Homo sapiens: one gene and its partners. The protein of the gene in region 2 purifies or fractionates together with the protein of the main gene of each other region. This does not show direct contact. Each region holds a gene or a part of one and is shown on either strand. Other genes may lie near its edges.

Evidence for each region.
Region 1: the proteins of NPLOC4 (region 2) and TMEM129 purify together in Homo sapiens (co-immunoprecipitation; one large-scale study listed by IntAct). This does not show direct contact.
Region 3: the proteins of NPLOC4 (region 2) and PDE12 fractionate together in Homo sapiens (co-fractionation; one large-scale study listed by BioGRID). This does not show direct contact.
Region 4: the proteins of NPLOC4 (region 2) and E2F3 purify together in Homo sapiens (pull-down; one large-scale study listed by IntAct). This does not show direct contact.
Region 5: the proteins of NPLOC4 (region 2) and FAF2 purify together in Homo sapiens (affinity purification with mass spectrometry; 3 studies listed by BioGRID and IntAct, with this or other methods). This does not show direct contact.
Region 6: the proteins of NPLOC4 (region 2) and POLH purify together in Homo sapiens (affinity purification with western blotting, with the first as the bait; one study listed by BioGRID). This does not show direct contact.
Region 7: the proteins of NPLOC4 (region 2) and PICALM fractionate together in Homo sapiens (co-fractionation; one large-scale study listed by BioGRID). This does not show direct contact.

The regions. Positions count from the first base shown.
Region 1 is NC_000004.12:1,715,377-1,718,335, reverse strand, and holds the end of TMEM129 (E3 ubiquitin-protein ligase TM129), read left to right. Parts: coding exon 1-184; intron 185-660; coding exon 661-820; intron 821-907; coding exon 908-1,156; 3' UTR 1,157-2,384; downstream 2,385-2,959.
Region 2 is NC_000017.11:81,567,541-81,571,127, reverse strand, and holds part of NPLOC4 (nuclear protein localization protein 4 homolog), read left to right. Parts: intron 1-2,016; coding exon 2,017-2,112; intron 2,113-3,587. UniProt on the Homo sapiens protein: The ternary complex containing UFD1, VCP and NPLOC4 binds ubiquitinated proteins and is necessary for the export of misfolded proteins from the ER to the cytoplasm, where they are degraded by the proteasome.
Region 3 is NC_000003.12:57,562,743-57,566,329, forward strand, and holds part of PDE12 (2',5'-phosphodiesterase 12 isoform 1 precursor), read left to right. Parts: 3' UTR 1-3,587. UniProt on the Homo sapiens protein: Enzyme that cleaves 2',5'-phosphodiester bond linking adenosines of the 5'-triphosphorylated oligoadenylates, triphosphorylated oligoadenylates referred as 2-5A modulates the 2-5A system. Degrades triphosphorylated 2-5A to produce AMP and ATP.
Region 4 is NC_000006.12:20,481,855-20,485,441, reverse strand, and holds part of E2F3 (transcription factor E2F3), read right to left. Parts: intron 2,681-3,587; coding exon 2,522-2,680; coding exon of another isoform or gene 2,493-2,521; intron 1-2,492.
Region 5 is NC_000005.10:176,454,798-176,458,384, forward strand, and holds part of FAF2 (FAS-associated factor 2), read left to right. Parts: exon of another isoform or gene 1-200; intron 201-3,587. UniProt on the Homo sapiens protein: Plays an important role in endoplasmic reticulum-associated degradation (ERAD) that mediates ubiquitin-dependent degradation of misfolded endoplasmic reticulum proteins.
Region 6 is NC_000006.12:43,579,155-43,582,741, forward strand, and holds part of POLH (DNA polymerase eta), read left to right. Parts: intron 1-3,161; 5' UTR 3,162-3,165; coding exon 3,166-3,302; intron 3,303-3,587. UniProt on the Homo sapiens protein: DNA polymerase specifically involved in the DNA repair by translesion synthesis (TLS). Due to low processivity on both damaged and normal DNA, cooperates with the heterotetrameric (REV3L, REV7, POLD2 and POLD3) POLZ complex for complete bypass of DNA lesions.
Region 7 is NC_000011.10:85,958,858-85,961,149, reverse strand, and holds part of PICALM (phosphatidylinositol-binding clathrin assembly protein), read left to right. Parts: intron 1-372; coding exon of another isoform or gene 373-465; exon of another isoform or gene 466-475; intron 476-2,089; coding exon 2,090-2,104; 3' UTR 2,105-2,292. UniProt on the Homo sapiens protein: Cytoplasmic adapter protein that plays a critical role in clathrin-mediated endocytosis which is important in processes such as internalization of cell receptors, synaptic transmission or removal of apoptotic cells.

The DNA of each region.
Region 1 (2,959 bases), on a different chromosome or scaffold from region 2:
TGACAGACACGTGGGTGATGAAGGTAACCACCTACCGAGTGCACGTGGCCCAGCAGCAGGACGTGCACCTGACTGTGACGGAGTCTCGGCAGCATGAGCTCTCGCCAGACTCGAACTTGCCCGTGCAGCTCCTCACCATCCGTGTGGCCAGCACCAACCCTGCTGTGCAGGCCTTTGACATCTGGTAAGAGTGTGGTGCCTGTGGGGCTGCGGAGGGCACATGGCAGGCCAGAGCCAGGCTCTGGTGCCACGACCCCTGGGAGGTGCTGGGTGTAGCTGGTGTGGACTCCAACACTCCTGGGCTTGTGTGACACCAGGCAAGGTGTCCACAAGACACCAGTCACTGAGCCCTCCCGCATAGCCCTCCCTCGGGTCCCCCTGCACTCTTGGCCTCCCCTTCCACTCCCTGGAGCCACCTCCCCCAGATTCTTGGGGAGCACTCAGGACAGTGCAGCCCTCAGGCTGGACAGCTGCCTTGCTCCTAGGTCCGTCCCGTGCCCAGGCTGGGCTGTCTGGCACTGGGTCCGTGGGCTCTGGCCTTAGGGCCATCTCTCCTGGTTGGTCCTGGTGCGACAGCTGCCCTGTCACTCCTTGGGGTGTAGCCTCCATCTTCCGCTCCCTTTGCCCTGCAGAGGGGCCCAGCAGCTCTCCTCCCTGCAGGCTGAACTCCACTGAGTACGGGGAGCTCTGCGAGAAGCTCCGGGCACCCATCCGCAGGGCAGCCCATGTGGTCATCCACCAGAGCCTGGGCGACCTGTTCCTGGAGACATTTGCCTCCCTGGTAGAGGTCAACCCGGCCTACTCAGTGCCCAGCAGCCAGGTGGGGGGCCTGGGCCAGGGCCGGGTGGATGGGTGGGTGCCCACGGGTGTCTGCCTGGGCTCCTGGTGACGCTCCACCTGCCCGCAGGAGCTGGAGGCCTGCATAGGCTGCATGCAGACACGTGCCAGCGTGAAGCTGGTGAAGACCTGCCAGGAGGCAGCCACAGGCGAGTGCCAGCAGTGTTACTGCCGCCCCATGTGGTGCCTCACCTGCATGGGCAAGTGGTTCGCCAGCCGCCAGGACCCCCTGCGCCCTGACACCTGGCTGGCCAGCCGCGTGCCCTGCCCCACCTGCCGCGCACGCTTCTGCATCCTGGATGTGTGCACCGTGCGCTGAGTGGGCTGGGGCCTTGAGGTGACTCTGTGTCTCCCCCCAAAGCCACAGGGCAGGGAAGGGGGTGGCTGGGCCTCCTGGCTGGCAAAGGGCTCTACTTAAAGCACATGATGTAGAGCAACTCGCCTCTGCCCTGGGTCTGCAGAAGGCTGAGGACTTTTGGTTAAAAGCAATCCTCATGAAAACACCCCACCCTGCTTGGCAGCCAGGGTACAAGTCCTGGGCACCTCCTCTTTGCCTCCCTCCTGCCCCTTTCCTGCTGGTGGGGGCAGATCCTGCACACACAGACACAGCGTCTGCCCCCGAGCCATTCCCTGGAGACCCTGGGTCTACCCCAGGTGGTCGTCATCTGGGCCATTTGCCTTACTTCTCTGGAGCATACCCACCCTCAGTTACGTGCCAGACCTGGACCGCATTCTCCTGCCCTGTCCTGGAGCTGGCCCCTGGCTGCCTGGAGGACCCTGGGTAGGTCCTGAGGGTGGGATGGAGAAGAGGGCACTGCTGTGGTGTGGGAGCAGTCCTGGGGCTTCCTGGTGGCTGTGACCAGTTGAGGGGCTGTTCCTGGGTGGGGTGGCAATGGGAGGACAGGTCAGAGCGCCCTCATTTGTGGGGCTGCCCCTCCGGGTTTCTCATCCTGTCCTTGGTGCCTTTTTCTGCCCAACAAGTCCAGGGAAGGCCGAGGTCTCAGACTCCTGGGTAGGGGTGGGGGTTTGAGTTGAGGACCAAAGTGCCATAGCGACATCCAGAACACAAGCCCACCAGGGGTCCAGCCCAGGCTACCCACTCCCCTAGGGTCTCCCAGGCTCAGAAGGGGATGCACGCCCCCTGTGGTCAAGCCTCTGGTGGGCGTCTTGCCCAGTTCCTGATGGTTCAAGGGGAGGGGGGATGTTGGCCAGGCCCCAGGGCACAGCCCTGACACAGGTGTGGCTACTGGAGGGGCCTTCATACCTGCGGCCCCAAAGCCCCTGGGCTTGGCTGTTTGAGGCAGAGGTGATGGACTCCGGGGGCCTGACACTTGGGATTTGGGAGGCTTCCTAGAGCGCTCAGCAGGTGAAGGCAGCAGGGGCCATGGCCGGGAGCCAGGCCTAGCTTTGAACTGAGTTTCAAGGGCTGCCAAAGAGGGGCAGTGGGTTGGGGTTGTTTTTACTACAAAATAAGTTACTTAGTTTTATAAAGACAAACCGATTGTAGCCAAATGACACCATATTTAATAAAATTTAGTCTGAAGTGATGTACTGTGTTTTGTGTTGCCCGATATTAAAACCAAACTTTTGTCATAGTTGGAGAATGGCCTGTGGGTATTGGAGAAGCCACCTTAGAGGTGGAATTGCGTGCGTGGCGTGCTTTGTTCAGAATAAGGAGGAAAAACCCATTGGTTGGGAGGCGGGTACAGTAGGAACCTTCCCCTCTGATTTCTGGTTAGGGACTCTGGGGTCTTGAGAACCCCTGACCCAGGGCCCTCTGCAGGAGCAGGGTGGGAGGGGCAGAGACACGTCCTGGGGGAAGTCACTGTGTGGTCGCCACTGCGGCTGCTTCCAGATGCAGGAACTGATGTGGGGACACATGGGTAGCCAAGGAGTGAGCAGCCTTTCCGGTTCACTTATGTTTGCAGCTGCGTCCTGTGAGGACACCAGGCTGTCTCTACTGACCTCACTGTGGGTCAGGGTGGCCCAGGAATTGCCAGCCGAGCACCTAGGGCAGCCAAGACAGCAGCCTGGGGTTCCCCACAGCACTGGGCCCTCAGGTGAGCACCCCAGCAACCGGACAGTGAGTGCTTGCTGCCTTTTCCCCATTCTGCTTCTTGAC
Region 2 (3,587 bases):
CAACTGACAGCTCCCGAGAACATATTTATTACCTAGGCCGTGAAGGCATCTGGTTTTTAGACTACCTAGGGTGTAATTAAGATGAAAACAGATTGATGGAGCATGCACCCAGGAGGAGCAGGCATGATTTAAAACCAGCTTTCTCAGGTCTTCTACCCCAAGCAGCCTCCCCACTTCTTTCCTCTTCTTTTATAAAGGAAGTTAAGTTTTTGCCTTAGTGCAGTTTTTCAGAAGTACTTGTTTGTGGGAGAGCATTCTGCTCTGTGATGCCCAGGCTCCTTGACCCTGTGGAAGTGAGGCATGGGGAGTCCTTGAGAGCAGGTGCCCAGAGAGGTGTGTCAAGCTCCATGCCCAGCCCTGGGCCACAGGCGCTGGCCTCAGCCAAGGTTCTTAAACCTTGGGATGGGATGGCTGGGCAGGCAGGAAAAGGCACCAGCCAGTGTTACTGGGGTTTCTTTGTGGGTTCTGGGGGCATCATCTGGCTGATAGACGATGGGTAGGGTAGGGAAATGGCTTCAGTGTAAGATGGGAGCTGATGCCCTTCCTTGGGACATCTGGGATGGGCTGTGTGGACTTTGGTTCTGTTCCCCTCCAAGGGCCAGTTACAAGGCCAGCAAGAGCCCCCGTCAGTCCCACTAGCTCACTCACTAGCACGTGTTCTGGGGGTGCCGCCTTCTTCATTTCTAGGCCTTCCCAAGGGACGCGCCTGAGCAGGCCAGGCTTTTGTCTCTGCAGGAGGTCAGCACCTCCCCTGTCTTCAGCTGGGACCCAGCACTGTGTGTACCAACACTATGTGTACCAGCCCCGTGCTGGGCACCCAGGAGGCGAGTACTCCGATCATCTTCATCCTGAGGAAGAGTAAAGTGAGGCCCAGGATCCCTAACTGACGAGGCCATGTAGCCGACACGTGGCACCGCGGCCCGAGTCTTCATGACCCACCCCGCCGCTTGCCCATGAAGGGCCAGCTCAGGCCAGAGATGCTGCTGGTGGCTCAGCTGTCCTTCCACAGCGGCTGGCGCTGGCACAGCAAATCCTGGGCCAGCTAGCTCAACAACTCACTGCCTTTGCTGATGCAGAAAACAGACCAGAACCACACTCATTCTTTAGAAATAGTCCCAAAGGAACCAGAATAGTTCCCCTAAATCTGGAAGAGGTGTGACCTCTGCTGCTGCTGTTGTGTTGCAGAGAAAAGCAGCATCAACTCAACTCGGTGCTGCTTTGGGGAGGGGTGTCTGTCACGAAGAATAAAAGTGGTATTTCTATTGATTCTTGCACATTTACCACTGTCCCTGTAGCATCTATTGATTATATCTTAGGTGCAAAGTGCCCTCTGTTGTCATTAAGGCCTGTCTGAGCCAGTGAAGGACTGAAGGACTTAGCTGGCCTTTGGGTATCAGCTCTGAGGGAGAGAGAAGAGCTGAACCCTGTGTTCCTCAAGGGCCTTACATTCACCCCTGCCTGGAAAAGCCCACAGCTCCGTGGAGTGGCTCCCAGCATTCAGAAGGGGCTTAGTGAGCTGCTGAAGGGTGCTTTGTGTCTTGAAAGCTGGCTGATTGCTCATTTGCCCTCCGAATCCAATGACACGAATCTCTCTTGAGCAAAGTCAGCTCCTGGGGCGGCCTCCTGGCCCTTCCGTTCCTTTCCTGTCACCTGGCCAAGGGGCCAAACCAGCCTTTCGTTCCTCCATAGCAGAGGGAGAGAACCTGTGTGACTCTGAAGGGAAGCTGTGCCACGAGGGGAGTCCCAGTGCCCTTTTTGTCCGACGTCGAGGCCGGTGCACAGGCCGGAGGCTGCCCGGATATGGTGTAGTTTGTCTCCAGGATGGCGGAGTTTCCAAGTGTTCGTTTAGAGATGACACTAATAGATAACGGTTCCCTTTGATGGAGAGCTTGTAGAACATTCTCAGAATTGCTAGGAGTCGTTAATTTGGGCTCTGGGAGATGCTCTGGGCTGGCTGGGAGTCGGCCACACCATTTTCAGCCTCATTTATCATGGGTTTGTGTTTTTCTTCATTAGATCACAACAACTTTCCCCAAGGATCCAGTTTACACTTTTTCTATTTCGCAAAATCCATTTCCTATTGAAAACCGGGATGTATTGGGTGAGACACAGGTGAGCTCTTTGTCTTTAGAAACATAATTTAAGGTAACTGCTGATTGTTATCTAGTGTCAGTATTGTTTTTCCAGAAAACATCAAGCTTTCAAATGCTCCCGATTCATTCTTGTGACAGGCCAGCTAGGGCCTACTGTGGGGCACTGCTGGTCACGTGGACGCCCTTCCCATGGCTAGGTGATGGACGGCCACAAAGGCTAATCCCCTGACGTCCTGACTGGCCACATCTTCAGTGGACCTCGTAATTTTCCCAAATGTGTTGCTTTGTGTCTTCTGCCAGCAGCCTCGTCACTGTTGGTTTGGCCTGGCCCCTGCCTGGTCACCTGCTGCCCTTCTTAGGCACCTTGGGGCTGTGTGGCCCCTCTCGGCCTGGCCTCGGCTTTCCCGTGTGTAGTGTTGATCTGCTGCTTAGCGTGGCTCCCGTGTTGGCCTCTGCTCTCACTGGCAGATCAGGCCAGGTCCGATTTGCTGTCACGCCTGCATACTGTGTAGACAGGCTGTGTACACATGGTTGTTCTTAAATCATAACTTGCTAACAGACATTTCAGAAGGTGGTCAAAGAATGTCTATAATGAGGTTTTCTTCAGTGGCTGACAAAGCTTCTTCTATGCTTTGATCCCCTCAGTGCCCATCCGCCCAGGGGACTTGGGGTGCTCACAGAGGTGCAAAGCCAGTTATTGGGGTGCACTCTTGAAGCTCTGTGTTTGGTTCTGCTGAAGATGTCCGTGCTGCATCACGGCTGCCCTGCACATTCCTCCCTCTTGCTGCCCTAGATGGAGAATACAGCTCGACAGGAAAAGTCAGACCTGTCTCCCTGCCGTGAAGGGGGCCCCAGGCCCCTCCCGCAGCCCACTCTCCACCGGGGGACCAGGGCGCATTTCCATGTTTGTGTCTCTGTCTGAGTCAGCCTTTTTTTTTTTTTTTTTTTTTTTTTGGAAGACAGAGTCTCACTCTATCACCCAGGCTGGAGTGCAGTGGTGCGATCTTGGCTCACTACAACCTCCACCTCCTGGGTTCAAGCGATTCTTCTGCTTCAGCCTCCTGAGTAGCTGGGATTATAGGTGCGCGCCACCAAGCCTGGGTAATTTTTTTTGTATTTTTAGTAGAGACGGGGTTTCGCCATGTTGGCCAGACTGGTCTCGAACTCCTGACCACCTGCCTGCCTCGGCCTCCTAAAAAGTGCTGGAATTACTGTGTTAGCCTCCACACCTGGCCAGTCTGAGTCAGCTTTATAAGCATGTCTCCTTGCACATCTGGGTAGTCAGGTGTGCTGAGAGCATCTTCTTGGGAGAAGAGAGCAAGAGCTTGCTTTGCAGCTGCCTGCTCCTCTTTCTTGGACCCTGTTCGTGGTTGCAGAGGCAGAGGGAGAGGTGTCTCAGCATTCAGTGTATTGAGTTGCGTCTTAGTAGGAAACAGCTCTGTTTCGGGGTCTGGCACTGGGGAACTGTATGGAACATTCATGTTTATTCCCATT
Region 3 (3,587 bases), on a different chromosome or scaffold from region 2:
TGCCGCTACAGCAAATGTGTCTGCCAATAATCAAAATTCATGAGCAAACAATCGTTTCTGGCTGTAATGTATGTTCTTTTTGAAATTCTGTATGCTAAAATCAGTTGTTTCAAAATTTCAAGAATTCCACTGAGTAGTGATTTTTCTGAGTACTAAGCTATGATCTCATCAGAATGTGCTGGTTTCAGTCTGGAGATAGATTTCTGAGGAGCCTAATACAAGGGAGAGAATGTCCAAAGAACACTACTGTGGAAAGTTCTTACGATGGAAATTGACATCTTTTGTATCTCATTCTCCAGCCGTGAAATAAAGGCAGAGGTTCCCTGCAAACTAGTTTGGTTGGGATAAATCCAATATTTATATATAATGAAAAATAAAAGTTTGCATTATTAGTTTATCACAAGACCCATGTGACAACTCAGAAAATATTCTCAGCATAATTTTTTTAAGAGATAGAGTCTCACTGTTACCCAGGCTGGAGTGCAGTGGTGCAGTCATAACTTACTACAGCCTCAAACTGCGGGGCTCAAATGATCCTCCTGCCTCAGCGTCCCAAGTAGTTGAGATTACAAGCCCAACCTTCCATAACTGAAAACTAACTTTCTTTTTTTCTTTTTTTATTATTATACTTTAAGTTCTAGTGTACATGTGCCCAACGTGCAGATTTGTTACATAGGTATACATGTGCCATGTTGGTTTGCTGCACCCGTTAACTCGTCATTTACATTAGGTATTTCTCCTAATGCTATCCCTCCCCCAGCCCTGAAAATGAATTTTTTAAACACAAATAAAAAATATTTCAGTGTTTTGAGAATTTTAATAATTTGCTTAATATAGTACAGGAAGGCAACACTATCTAGAGGGCCAGGCATAGTGGCTCTTGACTGTAATCACAACATTTTGGGAGGCTGAGGCAGGAGGATCACTTGAGCTGAGGAGTTCAAGACCAGCCTTGGCAACATTGTGAGACCCTATCTCTGCAAAAAATAAAATTAACCAGGCATGGTGGTGCATGCCTGTAGTCCCAGCTGCTCAGGAGGCTGAGGCCAGAGGATCACTTGAGCCCATGAGGTCAAGCCTGCAGTGAGTTGTGATCAAGGTGCGCTGCACTCCAGCCTGGGTAATAGAGCAAGACCCTGTCTTCAAAAAACCACTCTAGATTTCATGTTGTAGGGGGTAGGGAGGACAATTTTTAACAGCTTTAACTGACATGGGTAATATATAAGTTCTGTGTTCTCACTTTATATGAAAGTACTTTTTTAAATGTTAAAAATACTAGAGCTGTATTAACTTCGTGATTTTATTTTTCTTCTTAGCACTAACTTCAAAATAACCATACAGTACTGCTTGTAATTTTTGTATTTTTAGTAGAGACAGGGTTTCACCATATTGGCCAGGCTGGTCTTGAACTCCTGAACTCAAGTGATCTGCCTGCCTCAGCCTCTGAAAGTGCTGGGATTACAGGCATGAGCCACGGTACCCGGCCTAAATTTTAATTTTATATATAAATGGCAAAATAATCTTAAATATAGTAAATCTGTTCACCTATCTGCTATGCTAGCAAATTCTGGGTTGTCAAAAATCCATGTTCATACTGTCAGTGTTAGATTTTTACTCATAATTTAAAATTTCCCCGCAAAATTTCACAGAAAACTGAATTATTCATCTCTATCTTCTGTCCAATTTATGTAATGAATGTATGTCAAAGCATTTATATAACACAGTCCATTTTGCCCAGTAATTCACTTTAATGATGTTATCATGAAGTATTGATGTACTTTTTTTTTAGTGTATTGAAGTATTCCTAGGTTGCATTTGTGCTAGTTTCATACCATTTGTGTTCCTTATATATTGAAGATGGTTCAGTAGGGGAAATGGATAGGCTTTATTTAGTTGGCTTTCTTATACTGGATAATATAAACACTTTTTTTTTCTTTTTTGAGACAGGGTCTGGCTTTGTCACCCAGGCTTGGAGGGCACTGGTGCCATCACGGCTTACTGCAACCTCCACCTCCTGGGCTTATGCAATCCTCCCACCACAGCCTCCCCAAATAGCTGGGACTACAGGTGCGCACCGCCACACCTGGCTAATTTTTGTATATTTTATAGGCAAAAAAAAAAAAAAAAATGGTTTCACCATGTTGCCCAGGCTGGTCTTGAAATTCTCAGTTCAAGCAGTCCACCCACCTCGGCCTCCCAAAGTGCTGATATTACAGACATGAGCCACCCCACCCAGTCAGCACACATTTTTTTTTTTTTTAAATAAGACAGGGTGTTGCTGTTGCCCAGGCTGGAGCGCAGTGGCATGATCATAGCTCACTGCAGCATCAAACTCCAGGGCTTAAGCGATCCTCCCACCTCAGCCTCCTGAGTAGCTGGGACTATAGGTGCATGCCACCATGCCTGGCTAATTTTTTAAATTGTTTGTAGAGATGGGGGTCTCTCTATGTTGCCCAGACTGGTCTTAAACTCCTGGGCTCAAATGACTCTCCCGCTTCAGCCTCCCAAAGTACTGGGATTATAGGTGTGAGCCAGCACACATAGCCCTTTTTTTAAAAAAATTAAAAACAAATTTTTTCTCCAGAAAAAAACATATTTATCAACTTTTAAAAACATTTTATGGGTACATAGTAGGTGTATATATTTATGTGGGACATATTTCTTTTGATAGAGTAAATTGAGTATTCATCACATCAAGCATTCATTTGTGTTACGAACATTCCAATTGTACTCTCTCAGTTATTCTAAAATGTGATATACACACTTTTAAAAGGATTTATTGCGCTGGGCGCGGTGGCTCACGCCTGTAATCCCAGCACTCTGGGAGGCTGAGGCCGGTGGATCATGAGGTCAGATCGAGACCATCCTGGCCAACATGGTGAAACCCTGTCTCTACTAAAAATACAAAAATTAGCTGGGCATGGTGGCGCGCGCCTGTAGTCTCAGCTGCTTGGGGAGGCTGAGGCAGGAGAATCACTTGAACCCGGGAGGCAGAGGTTGCAGTGAGCCGAGATCACGCCATTGCACTCCAGCCTGGCAACAAAGCGGGACTCTGTCTCAAAAATAAAATAAAATAAAATTTTAAAAAAAGGATTTATTGCATATAATTCTTATATCCCCTGTGGAATAGTTTGGAGAAATGGTACATCCAAAGATAAAATCAGTTAGAAATAAACAGTGGCCTTCCTCAGAAAAGCTGGGCTATAGTGTTTTGGGTATCTTAAACCAAGAAAGGGTATTTCTATCCCAGCTGTAGAGTTTTTAATAATTCTATTATAAATAATGGAATCAGGCCAGCACAGTGGCTCACGTCACATAATCCCACTCTCCTTAAGAGCTTTTTTTGTCACTGCATATCAACTCAGTTGACAAGGACTGGCCCCCAAAAGAAGCTGCATACTCACTTGGCAGTCACTCCCCATTCTCCCTAGCTCCTGGCAACAACTTAACCTGTCTCTGTGGATTTGCCTATTCTGGACATTTCATATAAATTGAATCATAATTTATGTAGTCTTTTGTGACTGGCTTCTTTTACTTAGGATGTTTTTAAGGTTCTTACTGTTGTAGGATGTATCAGGAGTTTGTTT
Region 4 (3,587 bases), on a different chromosome or scaffold from region 2:
CACCCGGCTAATTTTTTTTATTTTTAGTAGAGATGGGGTTTTACCCTGTTGCCCAGGCTGGTCTTGAACTCCTGGACTCAAGTGATCTGCCTGCCTCCGGCCTCCCAAAGTGCTGGGATTACAGGTGTGAGCCACGGCGCCCGGCCTTGGTCATTTTTTCTAAGCACTGAACCATTCTTTTAAATGTCCTGACAGCCAAGCCTAAAAGGCTATCATGAAAGAATATGGTACTTACGATATGACAAAAGTATTCAATTAATGTACAATGTCTTTAGCCCGTTATTATTTTTTATATGTACCCACAAAAAATTCCTAGGATAAAACAGCAAGTAACAAACCAATGAAGGCATTTCAGCAGGTAGTATAACGTATTTAATGGCTAATAGAGTCCGTGATCTAATATGTTTAATATAAAAAAAAGGGGGGGCTTAGAGACCCTAGAATAAATCATGTCCCTTACGATAGTAGCTTCTTTTTTTTTTTTTTTTTGAGACGGACTCCCACTCTGTCACTAAGGCTGGAGTGCAGTGGCACGATTTCAGCTCACTGCCACCTCTGTCTCCCAGGTTCAAGTGATTCTCCTGCCTCAGCCTCCCGAGTAGCTGGGATTACAGGCATGAGCCACCGTGCCTGGCTGTAGTAGCTTCTTATTAGAAACTGAATGCAGCTATGGAACTACTACTCCAGAAAGAAAGCACATTCACACGAAATCTGCATACACATGTAGGGGATCTATCACAGACTATCTCCTTCAAATCTTTACAGTTGAGATGATGGCTAATTCAGTGTTGAGCTTGTAGTGGCTGCTCTTGCAGGATTCTGGGTTTTAGGTCACTACATAACCCATCAAAGAAGTCAACGGATGCCTTTATAGAGGGCCAGGCAGTTCTGATTTTTTACTGAGAACACTGGAAAAAACTGACAACCAGGTACTTACACTACAGCTCACTGTCAAAAAGCTGTATGACAAGAACTTATTAAAATAAAAACTCATCACTTCTTGGCCTTTTGGCTAAGATCAAGTGTAAAAGAAAAACTCATCTACGATTACTCAACATGCTGCAGGAAGGAAAATTTCAACACATTTGTGAACAAGCTGTACCAATTTGGGAACTGAATGGTGAACTGAAATAAATTGTGCAAATGTATTTTCTAATCTTACAAACTTAAAAGTGCTTCCTTTGTGGCTCCCTCCTGAATTTACTCCTTGGGTTCGAAGTTCCCTGCAAGGAAGCTTTCATTTTCTGCAACAAAGGCCCCAGAGAGAGCTAATATAGGTGACAATGCCATAAGCCACATGTCCCGGAAGGCTGCCAATCACATGTAACCACCCATCTCTTCCACAATGGGGCTCCCAACCAAACAATGAATGAAACAGCCCAACTGTTGGTTTCTTCCCCTGTAAACCCACTCTGCCAACCACTGGGGGTCCAAATCACTACGCCTCTCTTCCATCTCACTAATTATCGGCTGACAAGGTTAATTCTTTGGTCAACAGGAAATGAACAATTGCAGGTTTGAAAAACTGCCAACATTGGAAGAAAATAAATATCTCCATATTCTCCAAGGGGGAGCCTGTTAAAGATGAGACACTAGAAGAATCTGGGCAGAACACTTTTTAGTTTTTGTCAAATAATGGTAAATGTGCAATCATCAGAAGTTTGGAACTAAAACTAGAGATGGGATAACTTACAGTACTGTTTTTTGTCTTCTAATAACTGAGAATATTGGCAAGTCTTGTTTGACATAATGAGGCAATCTCTCTCTTACTTTGTCTGTAGTGAGATGATGAAGAGCAAGTTTTCCTGAGATCGTCAATAGATTGTCAGGAAGTTGAGAACAAGAACTGACCTTTTGTATTTTTATTTGCGAGGACTAATGTTTGTAGTGGAACAGAGGAATTGAGAGGGGTTTCTCAGGTCTTGGGGTGCTTTTGAAATCAGTTTTTTCATTGGGAATCAGCAGAATGCACTTTAAGAGTTATAGTATGATTTTTCTCTACTCTTTCAAACCCTTCAACTATAGCCCAATCAGATAGATTCAACCAATTTCAATTGCTACGATATCTGGTGAGAAGAAAATAGAATGTGAGAACCCCAACAGTGACAGCTAACACCCACCAAAAATCTGGGAAGCCAAAGACGAATCTGCTTAGTGTTGTCATTAATATTAATACCGACACCTTATGTATCTTTTAATAGTGTGGCCTTACGCTACGAGTATACCCATGTCTCAACCACACATGAAAAAATGCTTTAAAAAACAGTTCCCACCTGGTATCAAAATAGATAATAATAGGATCGAGTTGGTGACTATCTTACCATAAATACTGACTTTTTAGGCAAAGCTAACTGGGTTTACACACACACGTGCACACACACACACATACACACACAGGCACACAGGTACTCATTTGCATGACATCAGAATAATAATCTACCTTGTGCATAAGTCAGATTGTCAACTCTGGAAATAGTCTAGGAAGCACTAACCCCCAGAGAACTGGCGGCACAAAGGATATCTTTGATTCTCTGAATCCTCGGTTAACAGTTTGAGGTCCAGGGTGCAGCTTTGGATCAGTTCATCTAATTTCTTCTCTTCCTGACTGAGCTCGGTCACTTCTTTTGACAGGCCTTGACACTGGGCCAGCATGCCCCCATCCTCAGACAGACTGCAGCCCCTAGAAACCCAAACACAGACTCTTCATGGCTACTCATGGGAGGGAGGGGAAGGAGAAATGATCCTTTGGGTAAATGTCTCCTCTTGACATAGGAGGTCACATTGCTTGTTAGCCAAGTGTTAAAATTAGAACATTTACACATATATATATATATATATATATTTTTTTTTTCATAAATACAGTTCTGCACTTTTCACAGCATAGAAATTTAGTGAAAGCGCACTGCTATTTTCAGGATTCTTTCCTCCAGGGGAGGTCTACTTCTTCAGAAGGTTCAAATTCAGAGGGCAAAAGAAGGCAACCACCTTCCTCCCTTGCCTCATGGCTCCCAGGTGGTGGGGGAAGAAAGGCGAAAAAGGATAAAAAGATAGAGAAAGACAGAGAAGATGGAATGGTTCAAAATTAAAAAAAAAAAAAAACAAAAAAACAACCCATCCAAAAAAGCATCAAAAACTCAGGTAATTACTGAGGGTCTTATATCAACAACTAAAAAGAAAAGAAAGTAAAGGAAACAGATGTATGTGATGTATGCAAGAACTGAGACTAGTGCACAATATGTTTCTCTAAACCAGAGGCCAAAACGGGTTACCAAACTGTCAACAAAATTCCAAAATGTGCAAAAAAAGGTATGTATTCATCTTCCATCTGAATTAGTATCTTTTCAAAGCCCTCCTGTAACAGAATTATTCCTTCCAAAATGCTTTAATAATTCAATACTGTGCTTATAGTGGCTATTTAGATGCTCTAAAATTCACAAAATATATTACATATGTAATCATACGTGTGGCTGTATAAGTATCATGCTACCATCCCTGCTCTACAGACGAAATGGAGGCATTTAAGTCTTGCCTTAATTTACCCAGAAAGTGAGTTAATCTGCTATTAGAACCATGGATAAAGATATTCT
Region 5 (3,587 bases), on a different chromosome or scaffold from region 2:
GAGCAGATATCCTCCTTTTCCTAAACTCTATTCTGTAATATGTTCAAGCATTTCTGCAAACTCTACTCTGTAATGCACTCAAGTGTCTCACCAGTCAAGTTGTATTCCTGACAAGAGGCAGTTATATTTGCTCCCAAACTAGTGTGTGCTGGTTATGTTTGTCACATGTGTTTAATTAAACACTACATAAACCTGTAAAATACCAGTGCAAAAAGAGTTTTCATCGATACGAAAACTAAATTAAAAGCTTTAAACAGGCTCTGTCTGGGGAAATTGCTAAAAAAAAAAATTGTTGTTTAGTTAGGTGTGGGCAAGTTAACTGTAAATGACTTAGGGAGAAATCATTGAGATACAACATTGTACACTTACTGCTTGGCAAGTGTTTAAGGTTGCACTACACTTAAGGAAATCAAATCAGTATGGGTTATGCTAAAAAGATCCCAGCCTGGGCAACATGGTGAAACCTCATCTCTACTAAAACTACAACAAAAAAATTAGCTGGTCGTAGTGGCGCATGCCTGTGGGCCTGTGATCCCAGCTACTTGGGAGACTGAGGTGGGAGCATCACCTTAGCCTAGGAGGTGAAGGCTGCAGTGGGCTGTGATTGCACCACTGCACTCCAGCCTGGGTGACAGAGTGAGACCCTGTCTCAAAAAAAAAAGTAAAAAATAGCCAGGCACAGTGGTGCACGCCTGTAATCCCAGCACTTTGGGAGGCTGAGGTGGGCAGATCACCTGAGGCCAGGAGTTTGAGACCAGCCTGGCCAACATGGTGAAACCCCATCTCTACTAAAATACAAAAATTAGCCAGATTTGGTGGCGGGTGCCTGTAATCCTAGCTACTCAGGAGGCTGAGGCAGGAGAATTGCTTGAACCTGGGAGGCAGAGGTTGCAGTGAGCCAAGGTCGCACTAGTGCACTCCAGCCTGGGTGACAGAGTGAGACTCCCTCTCAAAAAACTAAAAATAAAAACTAAAGAAGTTCCAAGGAGTGCTAGTGGATTCATTCCCTAAAGAAAACGATAGGCTTTTATCAGAAACTTATGTTCATGTGAGTACTTTATGTTAAAATGAAATATTTACATAAATATTCATTTATGTAAAAATGAAAACATGTAAAATGTTAAAATGAATATTTTTATTACTTTGACTTCAGTTAATTGATTAGTTATGGGTCTCATTCTCATTGGGTAAGAGAACTTCTGTCTTTGTCTTATAGAGATATGATTATATTATACTTAACTCTGCATAGCATAGGTAAGTAGTCATGAAGACTGACTGGGTTTGTTTGATTGAGACAGAGTTTTGCTCTTGTTGCCCAGGCTGCAGTGCAGTGGTGTGATCTCAGCTCACTGCAACCTCCACCTCCTGGGTTCAAGCAATTCTCCTGCCTCAGCCTCCCGAGTAGCTGGGATTACAGGTGTGTGCCACCACACCCGGCTAATTTTTGTATTTTTAGTAGAGATGGGGTTTTGCCATGCTGGCCAGGCTGGTCTTGAATTCCTGACCTGAGGTGATCCGCCTACCTCGGCCTCTCAAAGTGCTGGGATTACAGGCGTGAGCCACCGTGCCCGGCCCAAAATATATTTTTAAAACTTAAAATGAACAACTCAATCAAAAGGTAGGGAAAAGATCAGAACAGACAACTCACCAAAAAAGATATACAGATGGCATGTAAGCATATGAAAAGATGCTCAAATCTTTAAGGATTTGAGGTCCTTAAGGAATTGCAAATTAAAACAGCAATGAAACAGGAACTCTCCTGAGCTCAAGCAGTCCACCCCTTGGCCTCCCAAAGTGCTGGAATTACGGGTGTGAGCCACTGCACCCAGCCTCAACTGGAATTTCTGTTCCACTGGTCTTCCCCTATATATGCCAATATAACACTTAATTATAGAGGCTTATGATATATTTTGATCTGGAGGAACACCCCTGCCTCCACTCTGTTGCTCTTTTTCAGAGTTTTCCTGTTTATTTGCTCCTCTAAAAGAAATTTGAAATCAACTTTTTAAAGTTGAAATTTTATGAAATTTGTAAATGAACTTCAGGGGTTGTAGTTGACATCTTTATGTTGCTGAATCTGTTCAAGAACATAGTTATATCTTGGAAAGGTTTTGACATACTTACTCAGTAGTGTTTGCTGGCCTCCCTTTTTTGGGGTACTTCTTTATTTGACAAGTACAGACACTTATTATCAAGTTGGTTCAAAATGCGTTATTTTTTCAGAGTGGGCTGGGCATCGATATTTATGAACTCCTCTAAGTATTTAAGAGGAATATTTCTGAACCTTGCAAAGTAGTATACATTCTGATTACTCTGAGTAACAGATTACCTTTACAGCAGATAGTCTTTTAGAAGTAGGTCTTTGAGATGGGTATTGATAAAGATTAGTATTTTTTGTTTTGTTTTTTTGAGACGGAGTTTCGCTGTTGTCCCCAGGCTGGAGTGCAATGGCTCAACCTTGGCTCACTACAACCTTTGTCTCCCAGGTTCAAGTGATTCTTCTGCCTCAGCTTCCAGAGTTGCTGGGATTATAGGCGCCCACCACCACTTCTGGCTTATTTTTTTGTATTTTTAGTAGAGACAAGGTTTCACCATGTTGGGCAGGCTGGTCTCGAACTCTTGACCTCAGGTGATCCACCTGCCACAGCCTCCCAAAGTGCTGTGATTACAGGCGTGAGCCACTGTGCCCGGCCATAAACGTTAATTTTGTCATTTTTATTTTGGACCATCTGAGGATTATTTCACATATTCAAGGATTCTAGTTGTCGTTTCTCCAACATTGTATTTTTGCTTAAAATTAGTATCAAAAATGAAATAGTCATAAAACTGATTATTTGATTTGAACTGTTTTCAGGGGTGTGTGTGTGTGTGTGTGTGTTTAATACTACTGTTAGTGAGAGTGCCAGAAGTGATGAATAGCAGAAATCACCGTGAACACTTGGGGGGCCTGTGTGTGGGCCTTGGACTTTTCCACCAAGGAAATTATGAAAACTTTCTCACAGTCCTGGAATAAATTTGAAAGAGAACAATTTTTCATACTAAATACTGGGGAATATTTTTAAATGTGTGTTTGTAAATTCTTATTGGAGTTAAAGTCACAAAAAGTCACAGTCCTTAGTTAACCCTCTTGTCATATGCATTGCCACTGCCTCAGTTTATACTTCATTTCTCCTCTGGACTAAACTTGTATAACTGGTAGCCCACATTTAAAGTCTTCTCAATTCAGCCTTCCTACTTTTTCCAGAATAATATTTCTATTCTCTTTCTCTTCTCTTTTCACTCCTCTTCTCCCTTCTCTTCTCTTCCTTGACAGAGTATCTGTCGCCCAGGCTGGAGTGCAATTGTACAGTCTTGGCTCACTGCAGCCTCCGCCTGCTGGACTCAAGCCATCTTTCCAGCTCCCCTTCTTGCGTAGCTGGGACCACAGGCACGTGCCACCACGCCCAGCTAATTTTTGTATTTTTAGTAGAGATGGGGTTTCGCCATGTTGGCCAGGCTGGTATTGAACTCCTGGCCTTAAGTGATCCACCTGCCTTGGCCTTACAAAGTACTGGGATTACAGGCATGAGCCACCACGTCTGGCCTCA
Region 6 (3,587 bases), on a different chromosome or scaffold from region 2:
GAATCTCTCTCTGGCCTTCTGCCCTCCTTTCACCTGCCCAAAGCAGGACTCTAATCTTCCCCTGCCTTTCTGATTATGGGTCATAAGACTTTCATTTCAGAAGAGTTCCTACCCCATACCCTGGAGAAAGGAATGCTACCCAGAGAGGCCAGGAAGAATCTGGACAGGCCTTGCTGGGTTTCCCCAGTCTATTAGTATTAGATCATATCTTTTTTGTCCAGTCACATTTCTACACGGATGTCAGTCATGCCTATCCAATGAAGTTTCCATAAAAGGCCCAAGAGGAGAGGGTTCGAAGAGCTGCTGGATAGGAGCAAAAGGAAGTTCCTGGAGAGTGGTGTTCCCAGGGAGGGCATGCCTTGCCATGTGTATCTCTTCATCTGTATATCCTTTATAATAAACTAGTAAATTTGATTACCTGAGTTCTGTGAGCCACTCTGGCAAATTAACTGAACCCAAAGAGGGGCTCATGAGATTCCCAATTTATATCCAGTCAGTTAGAAGCACAGGTAAAACAACCTGTGGCTTGTGATTGGCATCAGAAGTAGGGGGCAGTCTTGTGGGACTGAGCCATCAACCTGTGAGATCTGACGCTTTCTCCAGGTAGATAATGTCAGACTCGAATTGGAGGATACCCACTTGGTGTCTGCTGCAGAATTGATTGCTTGTTTGTTGGTGGGGAGAAATCCTCACACATTTGGTCACAGAAGTCTACCTTATTGATTGTTGTTGAGTGAAAGAATCTTTTTTTTTTTTTTTTAAATTTATTTTTTTATTGATAATTCTTGGGTGTTTCTCACAGAGGGGGATTTGGCAGGGTCATGGGACAATAGTGGAGGGAAGGTCAGCAGATAAACAAGTGAACAAAGGTCTCTGGTTTTCCTAGGCAGAGGACCCTGCGGCCTTCCGCAGTGTTTGTGTCCCTGATTACTTGAGATCAGGGATTGGTGATGACTCTTAACGAGCATGCTGCCTTCAAGCATCTGTTTAACAAAGCACATCTTACACCGCCCTTAATCCATTTAACCCTGAGTGGACACAGCACATGTTTCAGAGAGCACAGGGTTGGGGGTAAGGTCACAGATCAACAGGATCCCAAGGCAGAGGAATTTTTCTTAGTGCAGAACAAAATGAAAAGTCTCCCATGTCTACTTCTTTCTACACAGACACGGCAACCATCCGATTTCTCAATCTTTTCCCCACCTTTCCCGCCTTTCTATTCCACAAAGCCGCCATTGTCATCATGGCCCGTTCTCAATGAGCTGTTGGGCACACCTCCCAGACGGGGTGGTGGCCGGGCAGAGGGGCTCCTCACTTCCCAGTAGGGGCGGCCGGGCAGAGGCGCCCCTCACCTCCCGGACGGGGCGGCTGGCCGGGCGGGGGGCTGACCCCCCAACCTCCCTCCCGGACGGGGCGGCTGGCCGGGCAGAGGGGCTCCTCACTTCCCAGTAGGGGCGGCCGGGCAGAGGCGCCCCTCACCTCCCGGACGGGGCGGCTGGCCGGGCAGGGGGGCTGACCCCCCCACCTCCCTCCCGGACTGGGCGGCTGGCCGGGCGGGGGGCCGACACCCCCACCTCCCTCCCGGACGGGGCGGCTGGCCGGGCGGGGGGCCGACCCCCCCACCTCCCTCCCGGACTGGGCGGCTGGCCGGGCAGAGGGGCTCCTCACTTCCCAGTAGGGGCGGCCGGGCAGAGGCGCCCCTCACCTCCCAGACGGGGCGGCTGGCCGGGCGGAGGGCTGACCCCCCCACCTCCCTCCCGGACGGCACGGCTGGCCAGGCGGGGGGCTGACCCCCCCACCTCCCTCCCGGATGGGGCGGCTGGCCGGGCGGGGGGCTGACCCCCCCCCACCTCCCTCCCGGACGGGGTGGCTGCCGGGCGGAGACGCTCCTCACTTCCCAGATGGGGTGGCTGCCGGGCGGAGAGGCTCCTCACTTCTCAGACGGGGCAGCTGCCGGGCGGAGGGGCTCCTCACTTCTCAGACGGGGTGGTTGCCAGGCAGAGGGTCTCCTCACTTCTCAGACGGGGCAGCCGGGCAGAGACGCTCCTCACCTCCCAGACGGGGTCTCGGCAGGGCAGAGGCGCTCCTCACATCCCAGATGGGGCGGCGGGGCAGAGGCGCTCCCCACATCTCAGACGATGGGCGGGCGGGCAGAGACGCTCCTCACTTCCTAGATGTGATGGCGGCTGGGAAGAGGCGCTCCTCACTTCCTAGATGGGATGGCGGCCGGGCGGAGACGCTCCTCACTTTCCAGACTGGGCAGCCAGGCAGAGGGGCTCCTCACATCCCAGACGATGGGCGGCCAGGCAGAGACACTCCTCACTTCCCAGACGGGGTGGCGGCCGGGCAGAGGCTGCAATCTCGGCACTTTGGGAGGCCAAGGCAGGCGGCTGCTCCTTGCCCTCGGGCCCGCGGGGCCCGTCCGCTCCTCCAGCCGCTGCCTCCCGGGCGGCGCTCGCCGGCGCGGCGGCAAAGACTGAGACAGCTCTGCTGCCCGCTGAACTCCATCCTCCCGGCGGTCGGGCGGCGGCGGCTGCGGTCGGTCGCGGCAGCGGCTCCGCTTCATATCTGCAGCTGGGGCCCGCGGGCGTCAGCGCCGCGACTGTCCCGGCTCCGCACTGCCCCGGGCCGCAGCGCAGCCGCGCCAACCACCACCCGCGGCCACCATGGCCGGACGGGCTCCCTAAGCCACCGACCCCAGCCCGCGGCGCCTTCGAGCCTTCTAGGGCCTCCGGCGCCGCGACCTCCTCTCAAGATCGAGTGAAAGAATCTTAAAAACTGTTTTTTCCACTCAGGGTATCCCTAATCTGAAATTTGAAATCTTCCAAAATCCAAAAAATTTTTTGCACCAACACAGCATTCAAAGGAAATGTTTATTAGAGCATTGTAGGTTTAGGATTTTTGGATTACGGATGCTTAACTGGTGATTATAATGCAAATATTGCAAAATTTGAAAAAAATGCAAAATCTCAAGCACTTTGGATCCCAGCCATTTCAGATAAGGGATACTCAACCTGTATATTTAAATGCCTATTTCATTCTTGTTAGTTTCCATGCTCCCATGCTCATGGTAACTCATCAGTGAAAGAATGGAATTACAGTTTTCCCTGGCATTTTGGATTAGGTGTTTTTCTAACTGTCCATAAAATGTTGTGTTACAGAAAAATGGCTACTGGACAGGATCGAGTGGTTGCTCTCGTGGACATGGACTGTTTTTTTGTTCAAGTGGAGCAGCGGCAAAATCCTCATTTGAGGAATAAACCTTGTGCAGTTGTACAGTACAAATCATGGAAGGGTGGTGGGTATGTATCATTGTTATTGTCACAACTATTCAATGGTAACACAGTGGCACTGTGGCAGGTCCTTTGTTGTTGTGGTGGTGGTGGTGGTGGTGACAGGGCCTTTCTCTGTTGTCCCATCCAGAGCGCAGTGGCACCATCAGCTCACAGCAGCTTTGACCTGGGCTCAAGTGATCATCCCTCTTCAGTCTCCCAAATAGTTAGAACTACAGGAGCGCCCCACCATGCCAAGCTGATTTTATTTTTTGGGGGGTGGGTAGAGATGGGGATTGGTTGGGGGGGCAGGGC
Region 7 (2,292 bases), on a different chromosome or scaffold from region 2:
ATGTTCTCTCAATTTTAAACAAAAATGCAATTATGTATTCCCTCCCCTATCCCCCCACCACCCCCCATACACACATTAAAATTCTTAACCATGGGTCAGCTTATATCGACCTTTTGGGTAAAAGACATTATTCCTTTGAAACTTCAGAAGCACGAGTTTGTTTTCTGAAAAACACATGCCATTGCATACCTTTTAACTTGACATATGACTGAAACTTTTGTCTTAACAATCCATTTTCTACAAAGACTGCCCTTATATTTATTAAAGATGACAAAACCAAAACCACTTCTTCTTTCATACATTTTCTGCTTTCATGTTCTGTCATTCTGAGATCTTTTTTTCTTTCCCTCTCTCTGTCTTCTTTTCCCCCAGCTGTCGGCAGCATCCAGCCCCTCCAGTCACAGTCCTCACAGAGCTTCAGGAAAGGACCCCTTTGCAGAGCTCTCTTTGGAGGATTTCTTATAAATCACTTTAGGTATTGCTACTTGTTTTGGGAGATGGGGACTTAAATACTTAAAAACAATTACCAAACATTAAACACAATTCACGCTTCTCTTTCATTTCTTTAAAGGACTCTAGGCTCCCTCTCCTCCTCCTCCTCTTCCTCTATTCTTTAGGTGCAGAATGAAAAGATAGGACATAAGGAAAAACAACTTTTGGAAAATATCTGTAACATAATTATTTAAAGTAATCTCATCCACTGCTCACAGTAAATGGATGAGATCGGATAAAGTTTGCTTTTTAATTAAGGGCAAGTGAATACTTAAGCCCTTTCGATTAGAAGGATTCTGCATATGATCCACACTGCCTCTGTTTGCTGGAAGACAGTGTAATTTGTTCTTCTTGATGCTCTAGCCCCCAGTTTAGATATACCTTCTAGATCTTTGGGAGTTTATAGTCTTCTGATTTGGCAAGTTTATTAGCACATCTACTTCAGTAATCTTTGGATGGGCAGTTTAAGGGAAATTGTGAGTGAAATATCTTTGAATGAACAGTAGTACCCTATTGAAAAATATTTTTATGGCTCTTTCAGGTTCTTATTTATGTTAATAAAAAGACTTAGTATAATATTACTGTTCCCTTTATTGTCTCTAATTGTATATCATTTGGAAATAATATTTCAAATTTTGCTTCCCAAATGAGATTTTGCTTGTGGTATTTGTGCTTATGGAGAGATTTTTCTGAACTTGTCATGAAAAAATAGGTCATTGATCTTCTTTCTTTTCCTCCTCCACATGCTATTCCTCTATTTTTAGCAGTTAAGTATTTGGCCTGGATGTGGTTGCTTATGCCTGTAATCCCAGCACCCTGGGAGGCTGATGCGGGAGGATCACTTGGGGCTAGTAGTTCAAGATCAGCCTGGGCAATACGGTGAGACCCTAGTCTCTACCCCCACCCAAAAATTACCCAGGTGTGGTGGCGACTGTCTGCAGTCCTAGCTATTCAGGAGGCTGAGGCAGGAGGGTTGCTTGAGCCCAGGAGTTCCAATGAGCTTTTTTTTTTTTTTTTTTTTTTTGAGATGGAGTTTCGCTCTTGTCTCCCAGGCTGGAGTGCAGTGGCACGATCTCAGCTCACTGCAACCTCCACCTCCTGGGTTCAAGCCATTCTCCTGCCTCAGCCTCCCGAGTAGCTAGGATTACAGGCGCCCGCCACCACGCCTGGCTAATTTTTGTATTTTTAGTAGAGACGGGGTTTCACCATATTGGCCAGGCCAGTCTCGAACTCTCGAACTCACCTCAGGTGATCTGCCCACCTCAGCCTCCCAGAGTGCTGGGATTACAGGTGTGAGCTATGGTGCCCAGCCATTGAGCTTTGATCATGCCACTGCAATCCAGCCTAGACAGCAGAGCAAGACTCTGTCTCAAAAACAACAACAAAAAACATTATTTGGAAGTCCCTATATGTGTCAAATATTGAGCTTTCTGGCACATAAGTTGATAATACTGACTTTGTTTTATAAACAGGGTTTGTGATAAGCATGTTGTGAACACTTCTGGGCCAGTTAAATGGTAAAGACCACAAAGCATTTTTATTTATGAGAAGACATCCTACAATACAATGAATTAACATACCCACTTTTTTTTTCCAGATACAGTTTATGTAACTTGATGGAAGAAAATGGAATTACTCCAAAAAGACAAGTGCTCAAGCAGCAAAATCCTTACTTCCAGCAAAATCCAAACTGCTGTCTCTTAAATCTCTTAAACTCTCTTCTTCCATTAGAATGCTACAAGTAACTCAGTGAAGGCCCATGAAGGAAATTGGGACTAGTTTATAGGAGAACGTATCAAT